2 linked regions of the Homo sapiens genome follow. The protein of the gene in region 1 purifies or fractionates together with the protein of each later gene. This does not show direct contact. Each region holds a gene or a part of one and is shown on either strand. Other genes may lie near its edges.

The links.
Region 2: the proteins of NR5A1 (region 1) and HRNR purify together in Homo sapiens (co-immunoprecipitation; one study listed by IntAct). This does not show direct contact.

Annotation. Positions count from the first base shown.
Region 1 is NC_000009.12:124,500,748-124,504,400, forward strand, and holds part of NR5A1 (steroidogenic factor 1), read right to left. Parts: intron 2,664-3,653; 5' UTR 2,649-2,663; coding exon 2,547-2,648; intron 2,474-2,546; coding exon 2,332-2,473; intron 1-2,331. UniProt on the Homo sapiens protein: Transcriptional activator. Essential for sexual differentiation and formation of the primary steroidogenic tissues. Binds to the Ad4 site found in the promoter region of steroidogenic P450 genes such as CYP11A, CYP11B and CYP21B.
Region 2 is NC_000001.11:152,211,502-152,214,272, reverse strand, and holds the end of HRNR (hornerin), read left to right. Parts: coding exon 1-1,197; 3' UTR 1,198-2,197; downstream 2,198-2,771. UniProt on the Homo sapiens protein: Component of the epidermal cornified cell envelopes.

The DNA of each region.
Region 1 (3,653 bases):
TCTCTAAGCCCCCTTCCATGCTGCCCCACCACAGATCCTTTCCAAACAAATCTGACCGCTCTCTCCCCTGCTCAACACCCTTTCATGGCTCCCACTGACCACAGGGGAAGTCAGTCTCCTTTGCCTGGCATTCAAGGCCCTGCTCAGCTTTTCAGGCAATCCCTGCTAAGACCCCTCTCCTTCCACTCCACCGAACTCACCTCCACTCCTCTGTTTGACACATCTCCTTCCTCCTCCACCCTGCCTTTCATTTTCCTTCTGACTCAAACTTTTTTTTTTCTCTTGTGCTTGCTGAACACCCAGCCTCAATGTCACTACTTCCAGGAAGCACTCCTGGATTCATGCAAACGGGCTCTACTGTCCTTGCCCCAGGTGCCCTGTCCTTGCCCACTCTTATCATGCTGAGTGGATCATGCCATGTGCTCCTGCGGGCTAAGTTCTGGGCTCAGGTGTCTAGCATAAGGCCTGGCAGGGAGATGGTGACCGGAAGGGGACCCTGGTCAGCCTTGTTCACCGCTGGCCCCAGGGTCCAGCTGTTTGTTGACTGACTGCCTGACTGTTGAGCTCCTGCTTCAAAATGACTCAAGTATCCTTCACTGGCTGCGAATGTGAAGCCAAGTTTAGAGCTGGCCAAGGCTCTATGCTGGGGGAGGGGACCTCTCTTGCCGACTAGAAGCTCCTCCGCCTGGCGAGGAATGTGTCATCAGCCAGACCCAACAGGTACATCTCTGCAGCTGGAGTGTGCCCCCCGCCCCTGCTCAGACAGGGCCCCACCCTGGGATCTGGGCGAGGGGAAAGAGCAGGAGAGAGGGGGTGGTGGTGCTCAGCAGGGATGATGGCTGGGGGGCTGCCTGGCCAATCTTCCTGCCCCCTGGGGTGGGCAGCGCTGTGCTGCTCGCAGGCTGCACGGGAGTTTCTACTGCCCACAACAGCCAGCTATCTGGCCCCTTGGGACCTGGCACTAGGGGCATGGGCTCTGGGGACAGGACAGGATGTCCCCTCTCCCATCCAGGAGTCCTTTCTCCAGGTGGCAGGGCATGTGGTCCACCACTCTCAGAGCCACCTGGGGCTTTCTACACTGTTCCAAGACCTTAATCAACCACTGCCTGTTCAGCACACAGTCCAGTGACCGGCCACCTCCAGAAGCTCAAATCTTTCCTGCCAAAACTTACCTCCTCCTCTCTGGGCTGAGAGCTGGGGTTGAGGGTAGGGAGGCAAAGAGGGGCCTGGGTTTCTTGGGGGCAATTCAATTGTCCCCCACTGCCCGGCCCCCTCAGGGCCTGGCTAAGAACATGACGGGAAGGAATCTCACTGGCTGAGCCAATAAACCAGAGAGCCCTTTGGATGGACGGACAGACAAGCAGATGGGCAGCTGAATGTGTGGGGGCTGGGCGGTGGTGGTGGGCAGATCCTAATGGAAAGCGTGATGGGCTTGACAGCTAACCTGCGGCAATGAACGCCTAGGCACCTTCAGCTTGCCTGCACCGATCCCCACACTCACTCACTGGAGGAAGGCGCTGCCGTTAAGCCCATTTTTCTTTTCTTTCTTTCTCTTTCTGCCTTTTCTTTTCTTTCTTTTTTATTTTTATGTACTTATTTTTTGAGACAGGGTTTCCCTCTCGCCCAGGCTGGAGTGGAGTGGTGTGATCATAGCTCACTGCAGCCTCGACTTTCCAGGCTCAAGTGATCCCCCCACCTCAGCCTCCTGAGTAGCTAGGACTACAGGCACATGTCACCACGCCCAGCTACTTTTTTATATTTTATAGATACAAGGTTTCTCCATGTTGCCCAGGCTGGTCTTAAACTTCTGGGCTCAAGTGATCCTCTTGCCTCAGCCTCCCAAATGCTGGAATTACAGGCATGAGCCGCTCCATCCGGCCAAGCCCATGTTTCACATGGGAAATCTGCGGTTTAGAGAGGTTAAGGATTTTGCCCAATGTCACCCAGCCTGACTGACAGTGCGGGCACTGGGACTTGGCCTCTGCTGGCTGGGGTTGGGTATTTTGGGGGCATGGGGACCTCCTCACAGAGGGAGGAGCTCTGCCGACCCTGTGCTGGGGCCCTGGCAGGGGCTGGGGAAAGAGTCATCTCCATAGGGTTCACTTTTGGATACTTCTCAGCCCAACCCAGGCTGGCCTTGCCAGCGTCCCTTCCCCGCCCGAGGCCCACCCAGCGCCAGCGCCCGGTTCTCTTGCAGCGACTGGGCCCTAATGTCGCACGAGGGGCCTTCGCGAAGGCCAATGGTACTATCCCCTCAGCCCCTCTCCCACCCCCACCCCCTACCCCCTCAGGCTGTGGGGGGTCAGGGGTCGAGGCCCGCGCGGCGCGCACCTTCCAGGCGCATCCCCACCGTCAGGCATTTCTGGAAGCGGCAGAAGGGACAGCGCTTGCGCTGCGTCTTGTCGATCTTGCAGCTCTGGCTCTCGGTGCACGTGTAGTGCTTGTTGTTCTGCACCGTGCGCTTGAAGAAGCCCTGCGGGAGCTGAGAGTCAGCGAGGCCCCGCAGCGCCCGTCTGCCGCACCCCTGCCGCGCGCTCGCCGCTCACCTTGCAGCTCTCACACGTGAGCAGTCCGTAGTGGTAGCCGGACACCTTGTCCCCGCACACGGGGCACAGCTCGTCCAGGTCCTCGTCGTACGAATAGTCCATGCCCGCGGCGTCCGCCTGCGGAGGGACAGCGGGTCAGGGAGGGCCGGCGGAGACCGGCAGCCTGGGGTCCCCGCGGCCGCCGCCCCAGCCGCTGTCGCCGGCCCGTCGCGTAATCCCCTCTCTGTGCCCAGGCGCTGCCGCCGGCACCCACCGAGCGCCCCGCGCAGCGTCCCGGGGTGGGTCCGGTGCAGTCCCCGCGCCCGGCCTTCCCCTGCCAGGCCCCACGCTCCCGCCCCGTCCGGGGGGCTCCTCCCGCGCGGACCCCGTCGCGCCCGATCTGGGGCCCTCGGGTTCGATGCGCTTCGATTGGGATTCGTTTGTCTGAGAACAAAACCCCGATTCTGAGAAAAAGAGATGGGCTCAGCCGCGGGGAAGACGCCAGGGGACCCAGGAGCGCTGGGGCGCCCGGCCCGGGTGTTCTGGGAACCCGACAGAGACGAAGGAGGCAGAGACAGAGTCCGGGGGAGCCAGAGATGGGAAGAAACTCTGGCGAGAGACAACGACCGACGCCACCGGGCGCAGACACGAGGCCAGTCCGAGAGTGCCAGAGACACAGACACTGAGACGCCCAGCTAGAGAGAACCCGGCGGGGACGAGACACAGGGAGGGATGGAGAGAGACAGGGAGACAGAGAGAGAGAGAGAGAGAGAGAGAGACGAGAGAGAGAGAGAGAGAGAGAAACGAGGGGTGGGGGATTGGATCAGAGACTCGGAGAGACAGCGGAGGCCCGAAGAGAAAACCCAAGAGAGACTGACGCAGAGCCAGAGACACAACGATAGACGACAGACAGAGACGCCGAGACGAGAGGAGCCCCGGAGAGACGAGGCCGGGGAGCTACAGAAACACGGAGAGAAAACCTGGAGGCGGAAGCGCCCAGCCCGAGGGTCGGGGACAGGGGACGCGCGGAAACCTGCCGGGCAGGAGCCCAAGCGCCAAGGCGAGGCCCCGCAGGGTCGGACCCAGACGGGGGCCCGGGCCGCAGGAGGCGGAAAACGACGGCGCCGG
Region 2 (2,771 bases), on another chromosome or scaffold:
GGCTCCGGTCACTCTTCTGGCTTAGGTCACCGAGAGTCTCGCTCAGGACAGTCCTCTGGCTACGGTCAACATGGATCTAGCTCAGGTCATTCCTCTACCCATGGGCAACATGGTTCTACATCAGGACAGTCATCGAGCTGTGGCCAACATGGAGCTAGCTCAGGTCAGTCTTCCAGCCACGGTCAGCATGGCTCTGGCTCAAGTCAGTCTTCTGGCTATGGCCGACAGGGCTCTGGATCTGGCCAGTCTCCAGGCCACGGCCAGCGTGGGTCTGGGTCAAGGCAGTCTCCCAGCTACGGCCGACATGGGTCTGGCTCCGGTCGGTCTTCCAGCAGTGGCCAACATGGGTCTGGCTTAGGCGAGTCTTCTGGCTTTGGTCACCACGAGTCTAGCTCAGGGCAGTCCTCTAGTTACAGTCAGCATGGGTCTGGCTCAGGTCACTCCTCTGGCTACGGACAACACGGCTCTAGATCAGGACAGTCATCTAGGGGTGAACGACACGGATCTAGCTCAGGTTCGTCTTCCCACTATGGTCAGCATGGGTCTGGCTCCCGTCAGTCTTCGGGCCACGGCCGACAAGGGTCTGGATCTGGCCAGTCCCCTAGCCGCGGCCGACATGGGTCCGGTTTGGGGCACTCCTCCAGCCACGGCCAACATGGGTCTGGCTCAGGTCGTTCTTCCAGCCGTGGCCCATATGAGTCTCGCTTGGGTCACTCTTCTGTCTTTGGTCAACATGAGTCTGGCTCAGGACATTCCTCTGCTTACAGTCAGCATGGTAGTGGCTCAGGGCACTTCTGTAGCCAAGGACAGCATGGTTCTACATCAGGACAGTCATCAACCTTTGACCAGGAGGGATCTAGCACAGGCCAGTCTTCCAGCTATGGCCACCGTGGCTCTGGCTCCAGTCAGTCTTCTGGCTATGGCCGACATGGGGCTGGATCTGGCCAGTCTCTTAGCCACGGCCGACACGGGTCTGGTTCAGGGCAGTCTTCCAGCTACGGCCAACATGGGTCTGGCTCAGGACAGTCCTCTGGTTATAGTCAGCATGGAAGTGGCTCAGGGCAAGATGGGTATTCTTATTGCAAAGGAGGAAGTAACCATGATGGGGGAAGTTCTGGCTCATATTTTCTCAGTTTTCCTAGTAGCACTTCACCCTATGAATATGTCCAAGAGCAGAGGTGCTACTTTTATCAGTGAATAATAAACATAAATGCAATTTACTCAAGTAGCAATTTAAGAAATAGGAAAGTCATCTATGAATTCATCATGAAAGACAAGCAATCCATCATGAAATTCGTTCTAAAAGTGAATCAATGCATTTCTGTCTCTTTCTTTAGAGCCTAAAACTGTAGCATATATCTTGTTATGGGGTTCCTTCCAAAGACTGTTAGGCATTTGTGCTACTTTGTTAGAAAATACTGAGTGGAATAACTTGTTAGAATGAGGGTTAAACTTTGAGGAATAATGAAAAGCTTTTAAAGAGCTTTGGGTTTAGTTGGAGTTGTCTTTTTGAGAGCTCATCATTCATTTATAGATGGTGCCAAAGCTAACCTTACATTTCTTAGAAGCAAAATATTACAAATGCATTACCAGTCCTAGATACAAAGCTTTGTTTTACAGCAATTAGTGTACCCTAATTTTTAGTGTGCCCCAAGTTTGGTGTGTCCCAATTTTTGGTATTGTGGCAGAAGGTGAAGGCTCTGAAAGCAAAGATGCAGCAGCGGTAGTGTCTTTACTTATCAAAACCATCAAGTCCTTTTTCTTGGGTATATATTTAATCAGTAAGTTAATTAGTGGCATAAAAAAGTAGCATCAGGGTCTTTTCCCAAGCCAGTGAGCAAGAGCATTATTTCATAAAGAATAGGGATTTATCATTTCAGGAAAAAAAAAAACATTCAAATGTGGGCTTTAGCTTGTTTTCAGCAGAAAGATCTTGCTCCCTATTTCTAAGAGGCTGCTCAATATTGGGAAATATATTGAGGAGTTATTCCATGGAAATACAATGCTTTCCACCTACTACTGTAGTTCAATAACGTTTCCACCTGAAAAAATATCATCCATGCCCAGATGAAAAGGAAGAGTATCTGTCACTGCTACATAGTTCCTTAATTTGACTGTAACACATTTGTTTCAAGTCTTTGGATTCAAACAACCGGATTGTATTAAAATTGACAATAAATAAATGTTGATTAAATACTAAGACTTTTCTCATCTGTGCTTCATTTCACTTCTTACATACAGATGGTCATCCTAGAAACCAAACCAAACAGCGATTTCCCAATATTCTATTTTTCACAATGAAGAATAGATAAAGCATTCTTAAAACTCAATAAGACAAACTACTTCATTTTAAAATGATCAAAATTCCATCACACTGGTATTGGCAATGATTTTTTTGATATGACACCAAAATCACACACAATAATGTGGAGCTGTCAGCTCCATACATTTTATTGTCCCTGAAGCCCTTAGAGGGAGACAACATATGGAGGTAGAAGGCGATATTTGTCTTGGTTTAACAAAAACTTTTTAGTGTTAGTTTTAATTTTTAACAAAAAAAGTTTTTTAAAAAAATTTAAAACAGAAAAAAGCCTACAGAATAATGATGTAAAGAAAAAAATATTTGTGTTCAGCTATACAATGTGTTCGTGCTTTAAGCTAGGTGTTAATTAAGAGAGTCAAAAAGTTTAAAAATGTAAAAGTCTATAAACCTAAAAATTTACAGTAAGCTAAAGTTAATTTTTACTGGAGGAAGAAATTCTTTTATAAAT